Regions from separate parts of the Homo sapiens genome. Here all the other regions are linked to region 5. Evidence: fine-mapped expression QTL. A gene starts in region 5. Each other region holds a variant in brackets. All regions are shown on one strand. Distances are between the middles of the regions.

Region 1 (4,117 bases), 22 kb after region 5:
ATTGCCCAGGCTGGAGTGCAGTGGCATGCTCACTGCAAGCTCCACCTCCCGGGTTCACACCATTCTCCTGCCTCAGCCTCCCGAGTAGCTGGGACTACAGGCACTCACCATCACGCCCGCCTAATTTTTTGTATTTTTAGTAGAGACAGAGTTTCACCAGGTTAGCCAGGATGGTCTCGATCTCCTGACCTCGTGATCTGCCCGCCTCAGCCTCCCAAAGTGCTGGGATTACAGGTGTGAGCCACCGTGCCTGGCATGCCTTTTTTTTTTTTTTTTTTTTAAAAAGACAGAGTCTTGCTCTCTAGCCCAGGCTGGAGTACAGTGGCGCGATCTCTGCCTCCTGAGTTCAAGTGATTCTCCTGCTTCAACCTCCTGAGTAGCTGGGACTACAGGTGCCCGCCACCACACTTGGCTAATTTTTTTGTATTTTCAGTAGAGATGGGGTTTCTCCATGTGGGCCAGGCTGGTCTCGAACTCCTGACCTCAAGTGATCCACCCGCCTCGGCTTCCCAAAGTGCTGGGATTACAGGTGTGAGCTACCGCGCCCGGCCCTAAAACACATTGCCTTTTTATATATCTCAAATATTTTCCCCAGCCTATCACTTGTCTTTAACTTTCATTAGGATGCATTCGGAAATACAGAAATCTCCGAGGTAGGGGGATTGCTTGAGCCCAGGAATTCAAGACCAGCCTGGGCAACACAGCAAGATCCTGTCTCTACAAAAAATTTTAAAAATAAGCCGGGAGTGGTGGTGCAGGCCTGTAGTCCACACGTGTGTGTGTATATATGTACACAGAAATAGTTTTATTTACTTATCTAACATAAAATAGGACCATCACGTCTGTATTCTACAAGTTGCTTTGTTTGATTAACTGTATGTCTTAGAGCATTTCTTATGCCAAATATGAAAGTCTAGCTTTTGGGGGGCTGAGACAGGAGGATCGTTTGAGCCCAGGAGTTCAAGGTTGCAGTGAGCTATGCTCACGCCACTGCACTCCAGCCTGGGTGACACAGCAAGATCCTATGTCAAACATACAAACAAACAAACAAAAAACCAAAAACCCCCAAAACCAAAAACCTTTATGTAAGCAAATATGTCAGCCTTTTCTTTATGGTTTCTGCCTTTTGGATCCTGCTTAAGAAGGTCTTCCCTACCAAAAGGTTAGCTATAAACAAACTTTCTAATGTGTCTTAAAGCTTGGTTCTTTAATCCACCAAGACTATGTTTGTTTATGACACAGCGGCAGCTCTTTGGAAACTGCTGTTTCTGTTGGTGCATTTCGAGACCCTTCCCCCACTCCAGCCTTCTGGTCCCTTCCATCTGGAAGTTCTCTGGTCTCCAGCAGGCTTAGTGTCTCTCCCGCTACCCTTCTTTCCTCTTGCTGTGTCACCAGCGTATCATTCACCCACCGCCAGGGCTGAATACCTAGATCTTACCTGAGACACCCTTCTTCCCAGCCGGGCATCCTGAAGGCTCTTTCTCCAGAGGGTCTTTGGGCTTCCTCCTTTCTCCACCCTTCATGTGCCCTCCAACTCCCCTTAGTCCAGGCCTCATCATTTTTTTGTTTGTTTGTTTGTTTTTTGAGATGGAGTTTCACTCTTCTTGCCCAGGCTGGAGTGCAATGGACCAATCTCGGCTCACTGCAACCTCTGCCTCCTGGGTTCAAGCGATTCTCCTGCCTCAGCCTCCCAAGTAGCTGGGATTACAGGCATGCGCCCCCACGGCCGGCTAATTTTGTATTTTTAGTACAGACCATGTTTCACCATGTTGGTCAGGCTGCTCTCGAACTCCTGACCTCAGGTGATCCACCTGCTTTGGCCTCCCAGTGTGCTGGGATTACAGGCCTCATCATTTCCTTCACTGGTCTCGGCTGCTTCTAACGCATCCTCCACTTTTGCAGCCAGAGAGGTCTGAAAACACCCATGCACCGAGCCCTACATTCTCGTCCTGCCAGTTTCCTAATTCAAGGCCGTCTGTGACTCTGGCCCTTAGCACAAGCTCTGCCCTCTT[G/A]CCCTGGCTGATGAGCTGGCCCCACACCGCCTCGCTAAACTTCTGAGGTCCCAGGTTAGAGAGCTCTGGGAAGCCCCCTGACGCTCTCTGGCTGTGAAGGGCCCTTGCTCTGGGTACCGCAGCTCCTGCACCCCTCTGAATCGTAGCACCTCGTTCTCAGTGACACTGCGGGCTTCTTGAGGAAAATAATCGAGATTGCGTCTTGGGCACCCACTGACCCCCAGCGCCTGGGGCCGGAGCCCGGAGCAGGCGCTCCACAAACATTTCTTGGGTCCGCGCAGGCATGAAGGAAGCAAAGAACAAAGCTGGGATTCCTGGTAGCTGGCGACACAGACCAGGGTTCTGATCTCCCCGTGGGTTCGGGGAGGGTATGGAGGCCAGAGCGGGTGGGCAAGAGGCCCCTGTGCCCGGCGCTGAGGCTCCCGCGCGTCCCCGCCCGCTCCGCAGGGCAGACGGCGCTGAACATCGCCATCGAGCGGCGGCAGGGGGACATCGCAGCCCTGCTCATCGCCGCCGGCGCCGACGTCAACGCGCACGCCAAGGGGGCCTTCTTCAACCCCAAGTACCAACACGAAGGCTTCTACTTCGGTGGGTGCCGCCCCCGCCCGGTGCGGAGTCTGGGAGGAGGGAGGAGGGAGACGGGAGAGGAAGGGAGGGAAGGGGAAGGAGGGAAGAAGGGAGGAGGGGGGAAGAAAGAGGGAAGGAGGAAGGAAGTGAGGAGGGAGAGGGAGGAAGGGAGGGGGAAACAGGAAGGAGAGAGGAGGGAGAGGGAGGAGGGAGGAAGGAAGCAGGAAGGATGAGGGAGGAAGGAAGGGAGGAGGGAGAGGAAGGAAGGGAGGAGGGAGAAAGGAAGAGGGAAGCAGGAAGGAGGGAGGAAGGGAGGAGGGAGGAGGGAGAGGGAGGAGGAGTAAGGAGGGGGAGGGAGGGAGGAGGGAGGCAGGAGACAGAAGGGAGAAGGAGGAGGGAGAGGGAGGAAGGGAGGAGGAAGGAGGGCGGAGGGAGAGAAAGGAAGGAAGGAGGGAGGAAGGGAGGGGCCACCCCGCTTTGAGCTCCACCCACACTGTCCCTGCCTTAAGAAGCTCTGGTGCCCCAGAGGGGCAGGAGGGGAGGAGGCTGGGCATGTCCATCTGAGCAGGACACCAGGGTGGACCAGAGAAGGAGGGGCTGGGAGGAGGTGTTGGGGGAGGAGTCCATGTTCCGGTGGTGTCACCTGGTGGTCTTAGAAGCATTGTCCTGGGTAGCTCTCTGAGGGAACAGAGACCTGGGAGGGAGGCTGAGGAGGCAGCCCCATTTTACAGGCGAGGAGATGGCTCTGTGAAGGGAAAGGACTTGCCCCAGGGTAGCAGGGCATTGACTTAGGTGTCCTGGCCTCCAGCTCTGACCTCTGTGCCAGGGCCCAGTGCATCTCAGGACTGCAGACAGGGAGTCGAGAGTGAGAGGGCAGAACTCCCCTGCCTCACAAGTCACAGAGTCCAGAAGCAATTGGGGTTAGGATGCTCTAGGAAAAAAAAAAAAAATTGAAATGCATAATTTAGATATAGTGAAAGTCACCCGTGTTAGAGGACAGTTCTGTTCATTTTCACAGTGCGTCGAGTTGGTTCACCACCACTGCAGTCAGAACAGGGAACAAATGGCTCCGTCACACACAAAAATTTCTCTGTGTAACTTTGTTGCAGAGGAGACCCCTCCTGCCACCCAGTCTTGCCTGACTGATGATCACCCATCTGTTTTCTCTTCTGGGTGTTATTTTTTTTATTTTTATTTTTTTAATGGAGTCTCACTCTGTTGCCCAGGCTGCTGGAGTGCAGTGGTGCCATCTGGCTCACTGCAGCCTCTGCCTCCTGGGTTCAAGCGATTCTCATGCTGCAGCCTCCTGAGTAGCTGGGACTATCTTCTGGGTGGTTTTTTAATCAGCAGGACTAGCTAGTCTGTGCTCTGGGCAGCCCTGCGTGTCCAGGTGTGGGTGTCCTGGAAAACGGGGTCTTGTCCAGTTCATCGTGTGTCCCCATTGCCCTGCATAGGAGCTGGTTGGACCTGGTGTTGGGAAGCATTTGTTGGGTGGGGCGAGGAGAGGGGAGGCAGCTGAAGACCTGGTGTCCGGAGCT
Region 2 (4,117 bases), 30 kb after region 5:
GATGGGCGGAACAGCAAGCTTTGTGCGCATTCCACAGATAAAGACGGGGCCCAGGGGCCATGGCGCCAGGCGCAGAGGCAGGTCTCCACCCATTCTGGGCGGGTGTATCCCCTGGGCCCAGCCAGCCTCTGGCTGGTCCAGCCCTGTTGGCCTTAAGCCCCTGTTCTGCAGCTGATGGTTGTTCCTCCTCCTGTCCCAGATCCTGAAGTACATCCTCAGTCGTGAGATCAAGGAGAAGCGGCTCCGGAGCCTGTCCAGGAAGTTCACCGACTGGGCGTACGGACCCGTGTCATCCTCCCTCTACGACCTCACCAACGTGGACACCACCACGGACAACTCAGTGCTGGAAATCACTGTCTACAACACCAACATCGACGTGGGTCTCCTGCACAGGCGGGGAAGGGCAGGGAGAAGAGGGCTGGACCTCAGGCCAGGGGCTGAGAGGACGCTGGGAAGACCCAGTGCTGCCAGCTCCATCCCTCGGCATCTGCATACCCCACTCTGTTGCCTCAGTGAGCAGAGTCAGGCACAGAAAAGGCGAGGCCTGGGACAGATGCTGGGCCCGACTCTTCCTGATTGACCTTGGACTGTAGACCTGAGTGGTGGTGGCGGGGGCGGTGGGCGGGAGGTCTTCTGGACCGAGTATCCAGGGCTGTTTGGGTGTGGGTGTGGGTGATGGGGTGATTGGGGTTGATCCTTTCCATATTGTTTCTCTCCCACCCCCCGTTGGTGTATACGGCCAGGCTTAGAATTCTTTCTTCCCCAAAACCTGGTCCCAAATGAGGGTCAGAGAGTGCACTGAGGAGCAATCGGGGGGCCTTCCTGGAGGAGGCTAGAGGGGAGAGTTCGGTGCAACTGGAGGTGAAGAGAGGAGCAGCTATGAGAGGTGTTCAGCTCTTGGGGGCAGTGAGGCAGCAGGCTGGGTCTTCCTCCTTCATACTTTACTAAGAGTCATGCTTCCCAGAGTCCCCTTGCCTTGGGTCTTCCCAGACCCTCACAGCAGCCTGGTTGGTAGGGCAGGGATTGTTAGCAGTTTTATAGGTGAGGAGTCTGAGGCCCAGAGAGGGTCAGGGTCTGTCCTAAAGTCACACAGCAAAGGAGGAGCAAACTGGGGCTGGAACCCCTGCCACCACCTCCTGCCCGCTTCTATCCTCCACTTTCTGCTGTGCATCGGGTCCTCCTGCTGCAAGCCCGGGCTCCTGCGGCCTCTGACTGCTGCCCTAGTACCCTGGGGAGGAGCCTCAGGAGCCGGAAATCACCCTCCCAGCATTTCCAACCAGACCAGTCCATCGGGCATAATGATGGGCCCCTTCTGCAGCACTGACTCAGAGCTCCCGCAGGCCTTTAGAAAACGGTCCCTCCCTCTCTCCCTCATCTCCATGGTGACTGGTGGCATTCTACCCCTAGAACCGGCATGAGATGCTGACCCTGGAGCCGCTGCACACGCTGCTGCATATGAAGTGGAAGAAGTTTGCCAAGCACATGTTCTTTCTGTCCTTCTGCTTTTATTTCTTCTACAACATCACCCTGACCCTCGTCTCGTACTACCGCCCCCGGGAGGAGGAGGTACGTGGGCCCCTTGGAGGGGGAAAATGGGGCCGTCAGAGCTGGAGGGGCTTGGAGCTGCCCCACGTGCAGGTGGGAAAACTGAGGCCCAGAGAGACCAGGAGATTGGGCGGGGTCCCCCAGTTGTCCTTCACGCTTCCCAGGGAACTGAATATGTCTTCAGTGCTTAGCCTGGGCTAAGCCCCAGGTGCCGAGTCCCAAGGGCAGACCC[T/G]TGCTGGGAGGAAAGTTGGAGAATTCGGAGACTCAGGCCCTGCACAGGGTCTCTGTCTGTAAATATAGAACTAGCTGGGTGTTTCTGCTGTGAGGGCTGCAGGAAACGGGAGGAGGATAAGCTCTCCCTGCCTGCTGGGCTTCGGTTTCCCATGCGTCACGTGGGGCACAGAGCCTCGGCTTTATTTAACGGTGCTGTGAGGCCATGTTGAGTGCCTGGATATGGATGGGTTCCGGAAAGGCTATTGCAATGGAGTGTGAGGGTTGTTAGCACGGATTGGATGATATTCTTCGTTGTAGAGTTCTGGGTTTCCATCAAGGGTGAGGAGAGTTGGGGTCAGGGAGCTGCTCTTCCTTCTCTTGCCCTGTACAGAGATCAGGTTTCATGCTGGTCTCTGGCCCGGCTTGAGTGTTTCACCTGGGTTTTGGTCCCTCTAGAGTTGGTGCCAGCCCTGTCCTCCTTGCTTCCTATACTGACCACCCCTCTTCTTTCCCTGCAGGCCATCCCGCACCCCTTGGCCCTGACGCACAAGATGGGGTGGCTGCAGCTCCTAGGGAGGATGTTTGTGCTCATCTGGGCCATGTGCATCTCTGTGAAAGAGGTAAGTGGGCCACCCGGCCCTTCCAGACCGCCCCGCGAGGCAGGCAGGTGACAGCCTCCATCCCTCTCTGCTCTGCCATTACTGCTGGGGGGTTCTGGGGAGGCGTTTCCTTCCCAAGCCTTACCTTTCTGAGTTATAACATGGGAAAAAATGGATAAGGCTGGCCTATCCTACCTACTTCATCCATCTACTTCTCTATCCATCTGCCCAACTATCCGCCATTTATCTACCTTCCCAGCCACTCAGTGTCCCTTGTCCTCTTCCACCCCCATCCACCCATCCGATCACCTGCCCTCTTTCATGGACCCAGCCACTCATTCATCCATTCACATGTCCACTCATCCTTACCGACCATCCTTCTATCCTTTATCCAACCATCTTTCCATCTCTCCATCTGTCCATCCGTCCATCCATCCATCCATCCATCCATCCTTCCATCCATCCAATGAATCAACACATATAATCTGAGCACCTTCTATATATGTGTGGCCCTGGAGGAGGTGACAGGGTTGGGACGAGTTTGCCCTCTTTGAATTCACAGCCTGGTTGGGGACATAGCATAGGCATAAATATCAAGACTTTATGATAGACCGAAAAAGACCCTAAGCTGGGTTCAGATCAGTGTTCAGAGGAAGGGAGGTGACTTTTATCTGGGGACAGGGAATGGTAGAGATGCTTGAAGGCAGAGATGGCACTTACTCTGGTGGGGTAGGATTGGGCACGAGGACGATGAGGACAAGGTCATTACAGGGTGGATATGGGGAACAGCATGAGCAAAGGCTCGGAGGCTGGAACGCTAGGCTGGATGTGGGGAATGGAAGGCGGCTGTAGTGGTAGTACCGCTTTGCAGGTTCTGGGGTGAGGATGGGGTAAGGAGTGAGGGAGGTGAGAAGATTTGAGGGAGCGTTCACCTTCACCGTGGAGGTGCCTACGCCCCCCAGGCACAGGTCCCCTTTCAGATCCGCCACCTGGACTCTAGCTGGGCCTTTGTGCATTCAACCCTCACTGAGTCTTGGTCCTGGGGAAGCACCCTCTGCTCAGCTCCCCTGCTGAGGGCCATGAAGAGGGTGCACTGTTTCTTTCCTTCCTGGCCTTAGGGCATTGCCATCTTCCTGCTGAGACCCTCGGATCTGCAGTCCATCCTCTCGGATGCCTGGTTCCACTTTGTCTTGTAAGTAGGTCTGGCCCCTTGGTTATCGCCTCACAGGCAGGGTTGACGTCCTGTATGGTGGCTGCCGTGTCCGCCTCTTGAACAAATATCCTACTGTGCCACGGTGTCCCAGTCACTCTGCCATGGTTACACGCCAGGGGTCTCCTCTCTTCCTCCTAGTAGGAGACACGTAAATGCCCATGGAGAAGGTCAGAAAACTTCAGGGCTGTGGGGCCCAGTGGCTCACGCCTGTAATTCCAGCACTCTGGGAGGCTGAGATGGTGGTGATGGCCAACTCTACCCATCACAGAGCCCCACGTGGAAGGCAGCATGGAGTGGAGAAGGCGGCAACAGGCTTAGCAGTCCTGTTTACGTTGTTGTTTTTTTTTTTTAGTTGAGGTGGAGTTTTACTCTTGTTGCCCAGGCTGGAGTGCAGTGGCGTGACCTCGGCTCACTGCAACCTCCACCTCCCAGGTTCAAGCGATTCTCCTGCCTCAGCCTCCTGAGTAGCTGGGATTACAGACGTGCACCATCACACCTGGCTCCTTTTTGTATTTTTAGTAGAGACAGGGTTTCGCCATGTTGGTCA
Region 3 (4,117 bases), 43 kb after region 5:
AATATTATTTATATCATGGAGTTTCGCTCTGTCACCCAGGCTGGAGTGCAATGGTGGGATCTCGGCTCACTGCAAACTCCAACCTCCAGGTTCAAGTGATTCTCCTGCCTCAGCCTCCCGAGTAGCTGGGATTATAGGCGCCTGACATACGCCTAGCTAATTTTTGTGTTTTTAGTAGAGACCGGCTTTTGCCATGTTGGCCAGGCTGCTCTCGAACTCCTGATCTCAGGTGATCCACCCGCCTTGGCCTCCCAAAGTGCTGGGATTACAGGCAAGAGCCAGTGCGCTCAGCCCTAATTTTTGTGTTTTTAGTAGAAACAGGGTTTCGCCATGTTGGCCAGGCTGGTCTCAAACTCCTGACCTCAGGTGATCCACGCACCTTGGCCTCCCAAAGTGCTGGGATTATAGGTGTGAGCCACCGTGCCCGGCCTGCTTTTTTGTCTTTGAATTCTGTAGATTAGCCAAACCCTTGCGATCTATGCATTAAGCATGAGGTGAGGGTGGAGTGGGCTCCCCGACAGTGTGTGTGCCCTTGTGTGTGCTTGTGAGTGTGGATGCCTACTCCTTAGACTTGCTTATGTCCCCAGAGAGCCAGGACCATCTTGGAGTTTGAGAAAATGTTACCAGAATGGCTGAGGAGCAGATTCCGGATGGGAGAGCTGTGCAAAGTGGCCGAGGATGATTTCCGACTGTGTTTGCGGTAACAAAGGGAGAAGGGCCCTGGGGTGGTGGTCTTTGGGGTGGGTAGAGAGGGGCAGGATGGTGACAGGATGTTAGAGAAACAGTGCCGCCACTTGCTAACCATAACCACAGCTACTGTCTCTTCCAGTGGCCTCCTTGGAAGAAGGAATTTGCTTATGGGGTTGCAGGCCCTGAGATGGGGGTTCCTGAGCTTCAGAAGAGAAAGAGAAGGAGACTGCCAACAGCGGCTCCCCTCTCTGCATTTTTCTTTCTTCTTTTATTTTTTTTTGAGACGGAATTTTGCTCTTGTTGCCCGGGCTGGAGTGCAATGGCGCAATCTTGGCTCATTGCAACCTCCGCCTCCCGGGTTCAAGTGATTCTCCTGCCTCAGCCTCCCGAGTAGCTGGGACTACAGGCATGCGCCACCACCCCTGGCTAATTTTGTATTTTTAGTAGAGGCAGAGTTTCACCATGTTGGTCAAGCTGGTCTCAAACTCCTGACCTCAGGTGATCCACCCACCTTGGCCTCCCAAAGTGCTGGGATTACAGGCATGAGCCACCGCACCCAGCCCCTCTCTCTGCTTTTTTGGAGGTGCCTCCATGGTCTCTCTGTGTTCGCTATCTGGTTTAGGGAAGATCTGCCTGCTGGGTACTCCTTTTCCTGCTGTTTACCCTGTGTGAGTTCCTGTGACCCCGGGTGACTTGAGGCCCCTTTTGCCCCTGGCAGATGGAAAGTGACGTGGCTACTTTGACAGATCTCTGGCTTTTTGCATTTTTTTTTTAAAGTCCTTACATATCCTATGACCACCTTTTCTTTTCTGTTTTTTTAAAAGGAGTTCCAGGCTGGAGTGCAGTGATGCGATCTCTGCTCACTGCAACCTCCGCCTCCCTGGTTGAAGCGATTCTCCTGCCTCAGCCTCCCCGGTAGCTGGGACTGCAGGCATATGCCACCACGCCTGGATAATTTTTGTATTTTTATTAGAGACGAGGTTTCATCACGTTGGCCAGGCTGGTCTTGAATTCCTGGCCTCAAGTGATCCACCCCCCTCGGCCTCCCAAAGTGCTGGGATTACAGGCGTGAGCCACGGTGCCCGGCCCCATGAACACCTTTTCTGATAAGCCCACCTCCTCCTACCCTGACCCAACTGCCTGAGCCTACAGACCACCTTCTCGGAGTATGACCATACCTTAACCCACTTCTCTGACTGAAACCGCGCCCCGTGGAAAGCATCATTTCTGACTGCAATCATTACCCTAACAAACAGTTGTGATGTTGCCACCCTCACTCTAGAGATGTTCTCTGGGTGTGAA[T/C]TGAAGTCACATCAATGCCTATGGTTGTATTCTAACACCTCAGACGCCACCCACTCTTGTTGGGGCACTGACCCTAACCACAGGCTCTTCGTGCTTCCTCAACCCCTGCTACACTTGGAGTTTAATCTTCACACCCTCGTGGCCCGGGCCCTCCCTCTGTCTGTCCCCGCTTCCCCTTGGGCTGTCACCAGTCAGGCACAGCAGCTGTTGTCTGAAGTTGGACCCTTTACACCTGTCTGGGCAACTTGCAGGATTTCCGAGTTCCCTACAATGGAAGGAGAACTGATTCTCTGAGGCCTGGGGACGTGGAGATGGGGATAGAGTTCAAACTCCAACAACTTTGGTGTGACCCCTCGGGTCAGGGGTGCTCCTGATCTCTAGGACAGACAGAAGGGGAGCTGTGTAGACACCAGGACGTCCCAAACGCAGGGCTATTTGTTAGTACTCAGTGAGGCACTGGTGAAATAGTAAGAATGATTATCACATTTGCAGGATCAATGAGGTGAAGTGGACTGAATGGAAGACGCACGTCTCCTTCCTTAACGAAGACCCGGGGCCTGTAAGACGAACAGGTACTGTCGCTGTGAGGTGACATGGTGTCCGCTCCTGTCTCAGACCATGTAACCTTGGGCAGATCAAGTCTAAGGGTCCTGACTTTCCCCATCTGTCAAATGGGAGGGTTGAATGGAAATGCTTCTTAGGTCTCTTCCAGCTCTGACTTTTAGAACCCTAGTTGGCACAACTTTTAAAATGGCGTAGCCCTAAGCCATAGAAACACATCATGCAGGCCGGGCGCGGTGGCTCGTGCCTGTAATCCCAGCACTTTGGGAGGACGAGTCGGGTGAATCACCTGAGGTCAGGAGTTTGAGACCAGCCTGGCCAACATGGTGACACCTTGTCTCTACTAAAGATACAAAAATTAGCCGAACGTGGTGGCAGGTGCCTATAATCCCAGCTACTCGAGAGGCTGAGTCAGGAGAATTGCTTGAACCTGGGAGGTGGAGGTTGCAGTGAGCTGAGATCACACCACTGCACTGCAGCCTGGGTGACAAGAGGGAAACTCCATCTCAAAAAAGAAAAAAAAGAAAAAGAAAAAAGAAACACACTATGCAGAGTGATATATTTCTAAAATATATATTTTTTTAAAAAGCAGATTTCAACAAAATCCAAGATTCTTCCAGGAACAACAGCAAAACCACTCTCAATGCATTTGAAGAAGTCGAGGAATTCCCGGAAACCTCGGTGTAGAAGCGGAACCCAGAGCTGGTGTGCGCGTGCGCTGTCTGGCGCTGCAGGCGGAGTCACCGACTCTGTGCAGAGAGGCTTTGAGGGATGGTGGAGTCCGGCTCTGCTGGCCTAGAAGCAGAGTGCACCCTCGTGCTCAGTGCTCAGTGGGTGTCTGAACTGAGGGGCAGTTGTCAATTTGTCTGAGTGGGAAACATCCTGGATTTTGTTACTTGGCAAACAGCTGGTGTAAACCTACAGCCAGCAGCAGTCTGGAGCCTGGGAGCCTCCTGAAGTCCCGGGTGAAGCCTCTGGTTTTACCAATTGCAGGTCGGCTTGGCTGGGAGAGATGGATGGCGGGAAAGGGGCAGCAGTCTTGAGGAGCAGGGAGAGGAGTCTTTCCTCCTGCCAGCTTCCCCCGTCAGCCCCAACCCCAGCCCACACATTGTACCATCTCTTCTGCTGTGACTGGGTTGCCTGAATTTGTGGGAGACCCGTGATCCCATCCCAGAGTGTGCGGGGGACGGAGGTAAGCTGGATATCCTGGGGGAGGAGGGGAATGCGCTCTGGAAACACCCTTCCGGAACCCTTCGGGGAAAAGGAGACCATCCTTGGAGTGAACGTCCCCTGACACCCCAAGGTTCAAACTGTCTCAAGCTGAGAGATGTTTTTAGTAGCAGAATTAACACAGGGTTTTAACTTGCAATACGGAAAAGACATTTCAGTTGAGAATGAAAATTACTACAATGAAGTTTGTGATTTTAAAAGTGGAGACAGACTGGGGGCTTTGGGGCTGGATGTAAGTATTATATATTTGGCCTCAGGGTGCCCAGAGCAAGACAAAAAGCTTTTCTTCACACACACAAAAGTCTGCATGAGACACTCCGGGCAAGTCCTGCTG
Region 4 (4,117 bases), 350 kb before region 5:
GGCGATGGCGAAGGCCTTTGAACACCAGGCTGAGGCGCCCGGATTTCTTCTGCAGGCAGAAGGGAGCCAAGACAGGATGTCTAGCAGGGGAGGGCCTGGAGCAGGCAGGGGTGGGCGTGGGGACCGGAGGCAGGACAGCTGTGAAGAGGCCGCAGGGATGGGAAGGGGGGACGGGGCGGGACCCAAGGCAGAGGCAGTGAGCACGGGTGACAGATGTCGTCACCCCGGCAGGCCTCACGCCTGGGGCGGCCCCTGCTCAGCTTCTGCCCATTGTTGCCGCAGCACGTAACACCTGGCACAGCCAGAGCTTCCGACGTCTCAAGAGAAGTGGGAAGTGAGATTTATGCATGAAAGAAACCGCTTGGTTTTTAGAGATTGGTGACGTATTCAAAAAAAAAGAAAGAAAGAAAGAAAGAAAAACAGACCGGGTGCCATGGTGCACGCCTGTAAACCCAGCACTTTGGGAGGCCAAAGTGAGCGGATCACTTCAGCTCAGGGGTCCAAGACCAGCCTGGCCAACACAGTGAGGCCCTGTATCTAAAAAAAAAAAAAAAAATTACCCAGGTGTGGTGGCGCGTGCCTGTAGTCAGTCCCAGCTACTCAGGAGGCTGAGGTGGGAGGATCACCTGAGCCTGGAAAGTTGAGGCTGCAGTGAGCCACGACTGCACCAGTGCACTCCAGCCTGGAGGACAGAGTGACACCCTGTCTCAAAAATAAATAAAGAACAATAAAAATAAAATAATTAAAAACACAAATGGTTGGCCTGAGATTCAATTCCACATTCAGTTAGTCATTCAACACACAGTGTTTGTTGAGTTCCTATTATGTGCCAAGCACTATTCTAGACACTAAAAATACAGAAGTGAACAAAACAAACCAAGATCCTGCACTCAAGGAACTTAACCCAGATGCCCCTCGACTTGTCTGCGGGTTGCATGGGGGCCTCAGGGTGGGCCCCAGTTCTGAGCACATTCCCTCCCAGGCCTGGAGTCTGCTCATGCCCCTCCCCAAGGCTGCTGCTCCCTGACAGCACACGCCCCATCTGGTCAACTCCTGCCTGTGGCCCATGGCCATACCCTGTGTCCCACCAGCCACCTGGCCGGTCCTCCCAACCCATGCCAGAGCTGCCCCCGCACCTGTCCCAGCTCCTCCAGTGTCTCAGCCTTCCCAAAACCAGCCCTTCTGGGTCCTTAGATGAAAGCCGAGGGAGGACCAGAAGGACTGGGGGATCCAATGAATGTGGGGGCATGATGGGGAGGGTGGCTGTGAGGATGCTGCCTGGGTGTTGAGCCTGGGTGATAGGGTGAGGACAGCACCATTCTCCATGACGAGGACACAGGGGAACAAGTTCTAAAGGGAGATGAAGAGTTCAGGTTGATCCAATTGAATTTCTGTCTGTATAGTGGTTAGTGCTTGGCACGAAATAGATTTCGTAGGCCGGGCACAGTGGCTCATGCCTGTAATCCCAGCACTTTGGGAGGCAGAGGTGGGTGGATCACCTGAGGTCAGGAGTTCAAGACCAGCCTGGCCAACATGGTGAAGCCCCGTCTATACTAAAAATACAAAAATTAGCCAGGCGTGTTGGTGTGCGCCTGTAATCCCAGCTCCTCAGGAGGCTGAGGCAGGAAAATCGCTTGAATCCGGGAGGCAGAGGTTGCAGTGAGCCTAGATCGCCTCATTGCACTCCAGTCTGGGGGACAGAGCGAGACTCCGTCTCAAAAAAAAAAAAAAAAAAAAAAGAATTTATCAGGACATCACCACATTGTAAATTGAGGAGCATCTGGACTTAGCGTGGTTTGACTTAGGATTTTTTGACTTTATGGTGGGTTTATTGGGGGTATTAAGAGCCTTTTGACTCAGGATGGGTTTATCAGGTTATAGCCCCATCGTCATTTGAGGAGCATCTGTGTAAGACCCTTGGGTGCGAGATTTTTGTTTGTTTTGTTCACTTTTGTGTTTGTTTTGTTCAACAGTGTTTGGCGCATGAATAGGGGCTGGATAAATACGTGTTTGTTTTTGTTTTTTAGTAGAGACAGCGTGTTACTATGTTGCCCAGGCTGGTCTCTAACTCCTGGCCTCAGGTGATCCTCCCCTCTCAGCCTCCCAAAGTGCTAGAATTGCAGGCCTGAGCCACCACACCCGGCTCATGTTTGTTGAATGATTGAATGTGTGGAATTGAATCTCAGGGGAGAGTGCAGTCTGGAGATAGAATTCTGGGGACACAGCGTGTCTGAGGCAGCTCACTCAGGGAATGGGGGCGGATCAACATTGAAAGAGGAATTTGTGAAGGAGGAACGGAGAACAGTGAAAATGGGAGGTTTTCATTATATGTGCCCACTGAGTGCCAGGCACTGTGCTAATTTCCTTAAGAACTCATAGAGGCCGGGCGCGGTGGCTCCCGCCTGTAATCCCAGCACCTTGGGAGGCCGAGGCGGGC[G/A]GATCACGAGGTCAGGAGTTCCAGACCAGCCTGACCAACATGGCGAAACCCTCTCTCTACTAAAAATAAAAAAAATTAGCCGGGCGTGGTGGGGCGCGCCCGTAGTCCCAGCTACTCGGGAGGTTGAGGTGGGAGAATTGCTTGAACCCGGGAGGTGGAGGTTGCAGTGAGCCAAGATCGTGCCACCGCACTCCAGCCTGGGCAACAGACTGAGACTCCATCTCAAAAAAAAAAGAACTCATAGAAGCTTCCCCCAAACACTTACCTAGATGCTTCTGTCTCCTGGGGCCCAGGCTGAGTTTGTAGCAGAGCCTCACTAAACACTTAATGAATAAGCAGCGCCTTTGAGGTAGGTGGCGTCACCTCTGTTTTATTGAGAAAACCAGGGCTCAGAGAGGTGTAGTCTCTAGCCTGAAGCCACACAGCTGGGGAGCAGCAGGGCTGGCACCTGACCCTCAGCCACTCCACCCTGTGGCCTCTTCCTTGAGAAGGCCATTGGAGAGCCCCAGGATGGGGGATTGCTGATGACGAGGTAGAAAGCATGGTGAGGGTTATTTCTGGAAGGGGAGAGGCTTCTGAAGATGCCTGTGTCTGACATCAGGCCCTCTTGGTTGTCTTCCCAGGGTGGTGACAATAAGGCCAGATCAAGGCATGGCTTTGGAGGAGCAGGCCTGGCACCATAGTCATTCTATTATTATTTTTTGTTTTTTTGAGACGGAGTCTCACTCTTGTCGCCTAGGCTGGGGTGCAGAGTGCAATCTTGGCTCACTGCAACCTCCGCCTCTGAGGTTCAAGTGAGTCTCTGCCTCAGCCTCCCAAGTAGCGGGATTACAGGTGCCCGCCACCACCATGCCCGGCTAGTTTTTGTATTTTTAGTAGAGTTGGGGTTTCACCATGTTGGCCAAGCTGGTCTTGAACTCCTGACCTCAGGTGATCCACCTGCCTTGGCCTCCCAAAGTGCTGAGATTACAGGCATGAGCCACCGCGCCCAGCCCATAGTCATTCTATTATCACCAGAGTTGAGGTCATGAATGCCAGATCTGACCGACCTTTCCCTTCGACCTCAAGACCGGCAGCTCCAAGGTGCATCAGCCCCGGCTTGTGGGCTCCAGGTGGCTCTGTTTCCCCTCTGTGCTCTGCCTCCTGGGAGACACGTCGAAGCCAGTGTTGCTCAGTGGAGGTGGGCTGAGTCCTGGGCTGGGTGCCTCAAGCATGGGGACACTTGAGACCGCCACTCCTGCAGGCCTCAGCTTCCCTGTCTCTTGGGAAAAGGTAGAAAGTTCGTTTTGGGCAAAGATAGAAACGTTGCTAAGCTGTTGGGGCTGAAGGTGCCGAGAGGGAGGTCAGTGGCCTGTCCTGCAGAGGGGCCCAGGACAAGGAGAAACTCCTCCTCCCCCCTGCATCAGCTCCTTCTGGCTTGGACACAGAACCAGAGGCCCTCCTGGAGGAAGGGGCCCAAGGAGGCCAGTGGGGGGATGGGCAATGCTCTTGCTCTCCCTGATGGGGCTGGAGGCAGCGTGACAGACTCAGGACACTGAGGATCAGAGGCCTTTGTCATGCCTCCACCTGTTGCTATCTGGGACCTGCAGGGGACAGCAGTGACCAAGCTTAGGCTTCGGGAGCATGTGACTTGGCCCCAGTGCCAAGGTGAGAGGGGGCTTAGAGAAGAGGTGGGTGGGC
Region 5 (4,098 bases):
CATTCTAAAGAGTATGAAGTGGTCATTTTATCTTTTATCTTTTTTTCTGTTTCTCTCTGTGTGTGTGTGTGTGTTTAATTTAAACTTAATAGCATTGACCAATGTGTTGTATGCATTTACACTATAGCATGTTATATTTTTGTTCTGATCATATTCCTTTTCACTTTTCCATTCTTTTTCTTTTTTCTTTCTTTCTTTTTTTTTTTTTTTTTTGGAAACGGAGTCTCGCTCTGTTGCCCAGGCTGTACAGTGGTGCAGTCTCGGCTCACTGCAACCTCTGCCTCCTAGGTTCAAGCAATTCTCCTGCCTCAGCCTCCCGAATAGCTGGGACTACAGTGTGCAGCACCTCACCCCGCTAATTTTGTATTTTTAGTAGAGACGGGGTTTCACCATGTTGTGGCCTCTTCCCTCCTTCCAAGTCCAGGCAGATGCTCCCTCTTTCCCGAACTCATCCCCTACACCCCATCACAGGGACTTCCTCCCGCCTTGGGGGTCTCAGCCCATTTTGTCCTGATGACCCACATGGTGGGTCATGGTTCCTGCCTGAGCCTGTGTCCCCTGTGGCCCACGAGGGTGGACACGGCCTTCTCCAGTTCTGAATCCCTCGTTGTCCACCTGCGCCCTTGCCACGGCCTCTCCCGTGGGCTCTCACCATGTGCTGGGTTAAATGGGGTTGAATATAGACCATCTAAGGGGCTGAAGCTGCTGCTTCTGTGTGTTTGGGGTGGGATTAGGATGGGCTCGGGCTTCCTAAGTAGTGACTGTGACTCCACTGGGTGACCTGGCTCCTGCTGCCTCTCATAGCAGAGCGGGGGTCCCCTTCTTCCTTGCTGGGCACAGGGCACACCTCTGGGTGGGAGACAGGGGCCTTTTTCACCAGCTCCCACCTGCCCTCTGAGAAAAGTTATGAACACGAGCAAAATGGAAGCACTGACATTTGGCAGCAGCTTCCTCCCCAGGCGTCTGAGCCGCCAGAGGCAAACAGGGAGGGCGCGGGGCTGGGTCGGGAGAGGGTGAGTAAGCTAGTGGCCGGAGGCCGTGCTCAACCCCAGATCGGGCTTTTCCGGTCGAGTTTCAGGCACAGTCATGAGATTTCAGATTGTGAGTGGGAACTTCAGGACCCCCTGACTTCAACGGCAGAAGCGGTCTCCTGCTTCACCCACACCCTCAAGTCTGGTCTGCCCCTTACCGGCCATAGGTCCTGCTCTCCCGTGGCCTAGAAGCCTCACCTGCCTCCTGCCTCCTCCCCAGGCCAGGCAGGTTGTGATGATGAGGGATTGAGAGGCTCACAGCTGGGGATTTCCCTGCCCATCAGGCGCCAGCTGCGGCCGCGTCAGCAGAGACTTCCTGCTCTGTCCCAGCTGTGTCTTGTCCACATCTCGCCCCGGGGAGCAGGTGTGCAGTTCCTGAGTGACGCGAGACACACACGGCCATCCTGACTCACTCCACCCACTTCACAGCTGCAGCCTGGGCCAGGAGAGAGGGCACCGATTCCTTCTATGACGCCCTGGCCTTGGAGAAGGGCAACCTGGGCAGTTGCTGGGAGAATACATTGAGATGACAAAAGCAATCATAGCTAAGAGCTGACATTGTTTATTGAGTTCTTGCCGTGCCCTGGGCCTTGTTCTGGCCCTTTCTACTTGTACTTGTTGAAGCCCCACGATAACCTTGCAAAGTGGGTTTATGAAGCACGTTTCACAGATGAGGAGACTGAGGCTCGGAGAAATGACCTGCTAAGGTCATTCAGCCAGGAAGGGGTGAGGCTGACACTAAGGGCCATGATGCGTGACTGCTGGTGGACAGCATTAAATGGGGACTTCCGTCCCCGAGAGACCTGATCCCAGGAACCGACTTTTGAGAACAAGTGCCGAGTCTTGGGGCTGGCCACCCTGAGGTCAACCAGGCTAGGCCTGGGCTGCGGTCTTCCCTCCCAGGGGACAGAGCAGAGCGCTTGACTCTTCACTAGGCCCTCCCACCTCTGTGATCTCTTTGGCTCTTCACGGCTCCCTTGGAAAGTAGATGTTATCATTCCCATTTCCTAGTTGGAAAAATAGGCCTGAGATGGGCAGTCCCTGCCCAGCATGGAATGCCAGAGAGGGAGGAGTTGGACCCACAACTTCGATCTTGGCACCTGCGGCCTCCCCTGCCTTTTCTCCGGTGGGGATGAGGCTGCTGTGTGGGTGTGGGGGTGACTCACACGGGCCACGTGGGTGGGCGGGTGCTGCAGCTGTGGCTGGTGGGCGTGGCCTGCCTGGCGCCGAGGGCAGGTGGCTCAGCCAGTTCTGCCTCTGACGCCTCATTCCAGCCATCCCTCTGCCTGCAATGAGAGCTTCCCGCCGCCTCAGCCACAGTCCCACCCGGGGGCCTTGGGCCCCAGACATGCGGTGATCTCAGGGCAAGGGTTGCCACGACCACCCAGAACCTCACCAGGTGAGTCTTCTGTGCACAAGGCAGCTGGTGATCTCCAAGGCCCCTGGGGAGCCCAGAGCGTGGCCCTCAGAGGTCCTCTGGGCCATGTCTGCCCTTGGCCAATAGGCCTTGGGAGGAGGGTTGGAAGGAGCTTGGGCCCCAGCCAGGGGCCCACTCTTGGCTGTAGGGAGGCACTCTTGGCTGCACTCTTGGCTGTAGGGATGTGTGAGAATATAGGTCCTTACAGACTCAGGAACATTCCCCTGAGGTTTGGGAATCCTGGGGAGGGACATCTCAATCTCACCACTGCTGGGGGCAGAGGAGAGGCTCCTGCCTCCCGAGGCTGACCCAGGGAGGTGGCTTTCTGGGGCAGGATTGTGATGGGAGTTCAGGATGGGAGGAGGTGGCCCCACCGTGGGAGACAGACGGGGCCCAGGCATCTCACAGGTGCTGAGTCAGCAGCTGTGGCTCCGCGGCCTGGTCTGTCGCCCGGGAAAGGCCATTTCAATCAGTGTCAGGGATTGGGAGAGAGAGGGAGGGCCAGGGCAACAAGAGAGTCCAGCAGGTGAGAACGTGGGGTTTACGGGGTGACTCAGGGAGCTAATGATAGCTGCTGCGGCCCTAGTCCAGAGTTCCCTGAGCCTCTCCTGCCCCAGAGGCCCAGGGCAGGCCACATTCTCGGGCCCAGAGAAGAGAGAGAGCAACCAGCTCTCAGGGCCACAGAGTCCTTGGGGACCATTCAGCCCACTTCTCAGAAAGGAAACCAGAGGCCCTGGGAGGGGCAAGAGACGTGCCCTTCTTCTGTCTCCTTCACGCTCGGTGCATCCCAGCCTTTTAGTCCACCAAAGGCCACGTGGGGATGGGGAAAGCCATAGAGGCTGCCCATCCTCATCAGGCCGTGACTGGACACGGGAGGGCCGGGTGCCCAGGAGTCCCTCTCTGTGGGCTACTCCACCTGCCTGGCCTCAAGGTTGCCTACGCTCCAGGGCCAAAGCTCTCCCTCGCCGATGCCTCCTCCATCCTGAGCCTGCTCCCTTTGAGTTGGAGGGCGGGGGACTCTCTCCAGCCTGATGACACCTGGCTCCGGAAACTTCCTCCAGGAAGCTTTCCTATTGGGGTAGGATCACCAGTGGCCCCAGCTCCACCCCACCCAGCTGGGTTCTTCTTACAGAAATCCGTCTTCCTGCCCCCACCTATGTGTCGCCAGGTGAGTCCCCTGAGGATGATTCAAGCTGAGAGTGGCACCCCCTGACCACACAGTCACCACCTGTCCACACAGCCCTTTCCCCGCCCATGTCATCCCTCTGTGGCCAGCTGGCCCCCTTCCCCGTCCCTATGGCCCCTGCAGCAGCCTCCTCCTGGCCCCTGGCTTCTGGTCTCCCCCACCCCCCAACGCAGCCCGCGCTCTCCTATGTAACCCAGAGCCTCTGCACCCAACTCCCAGCTGCCCCCAGGGGTCAGCCATAGCTCCTTTTTTATGTTTAATAAAAACTTTATTTTTTTTTTTTTTCATTTTTTTTGAGACGGAGTCTCGCTCTGTCGCCCAGGCTGGAGTGCAGTGGCACAATCTCGGCTCAATCCAACCTCTGCCTCCTGGATTCAAGTGATTCTCCTGCCTCAGCCTCCCGACTAGCTGGGACTACAGGCATGTACCACCATGCCCGGCTAATTTTTTGTATTTTAGTAGAG

What was found. PIP is the estimated chance that this variant, and not a neighbour inherited with it, causes the effect.
Region 1: its variant is fine-mapped to the expression of TRPV3 in whole blood (TOPMed, PIP above 0.99).
Region 2: its variant is fine-mapped to the expression of TRPV3 in blood mononuclear cells (TOPMed, PIP above 0.99).
Region 3: its variant is fine-mapped to the expression of TRPV3 in whole blood (TOPMed, PIP above 0.99). The same link has a PIP of 0.9 or more in NK cells and blood mononuclear cells.
Region 4: its variant is fine-mapped to the expression of TRPV3 in breast (GTEx, PIP above 0.99).

What each region holds. Positions count from the first base shown.
Region 1 is chr17:3,534,056-3,538,172 of GRCh38, reverse strand. It overlaps TRPV3 (transient receptor potential cation channel subfamily V member 3), which reads left to right. Exons shown (of 18, transcript NM_145068.4): 7 at 2,460-2,600. Among named protein-coding and RNA genes, the nearest start is that of TRPV3, 22 kb to the left of the region's middle. RefSeq lists a silencer at 2,375-2,424. The variant G/A (reference allele first, on the strand shown) is at 2,013.
Region 2 is chr17:3,526,286-3,530,402 of GRCh38, reverse strand. It overlaps TRPV3 (transient receptor potential cation channel subfamily V member 3), which reads left to right. Exons shown (of 18, transcript NM_145068.4): 9 at 200-376; 10 at 1,408-1,566; 11 at 2,277-2,378; 12 at 3,476-3,549. Among named protein-coding and RNA genes, the nearest start is that of TRPV3, 29 kb to the left of the region's middle. RefSeq lists an enhancer at 1,878-2,798. The variant T/G (reference allele first, on the strand shown) is at 1,778.
Region 3 is chr17:3,513,040-3,517,156 of GRCh38, reverse strand. It overlaps TRPV3 (transient receptor potential cation channel subfamily V member 3), which reads left to right. Exons shown (of 18, transcript NM_145068.4): 16 at 588-700; 17 at 2,485-2,564; 18 at 3,146-4,117. The coding sequence ends at 3,240. It also overlaps a transcript of SPATA22 not described here. Among named protein-coding and RNA genes, the nearest start is that of ASPA, 39 kb to the right of the region's middle. The variant T/C (reference allele first, on the strand shown) is at 1,993.
Region 4 is chr17:3,907,593-3,911,709 of GRCh38, reverse strand. All of the region lies in intron 1 of P2RX1 (purinergic receptor P2X 1), which reads left to right. Among named protein-coding and RNA genes, the nearest start is that of P2RX1, 6.8 kb to the left of the region's middle. RefSeq lists enhancers at 1-56, 437-486. The variant G/A (reference allele first, on the strand shown) is at 2,438.
Region 5 is chr17:3,556,008-3,560,105 of GRCh38, reverse strand. TRPV3 (transient receptor potential cation channel subfamily V member 3) reads left to right here and starts at 2,294. Exons shown (of 18, transcript NM_145068.4): 1 at 2,294-2,430. RefSeq lists enhancers at 786-845, 916-975, 463-1,277, 1,186-1,415, 1,446-1,495 and 2 more and a silencer at 3,276-3,335.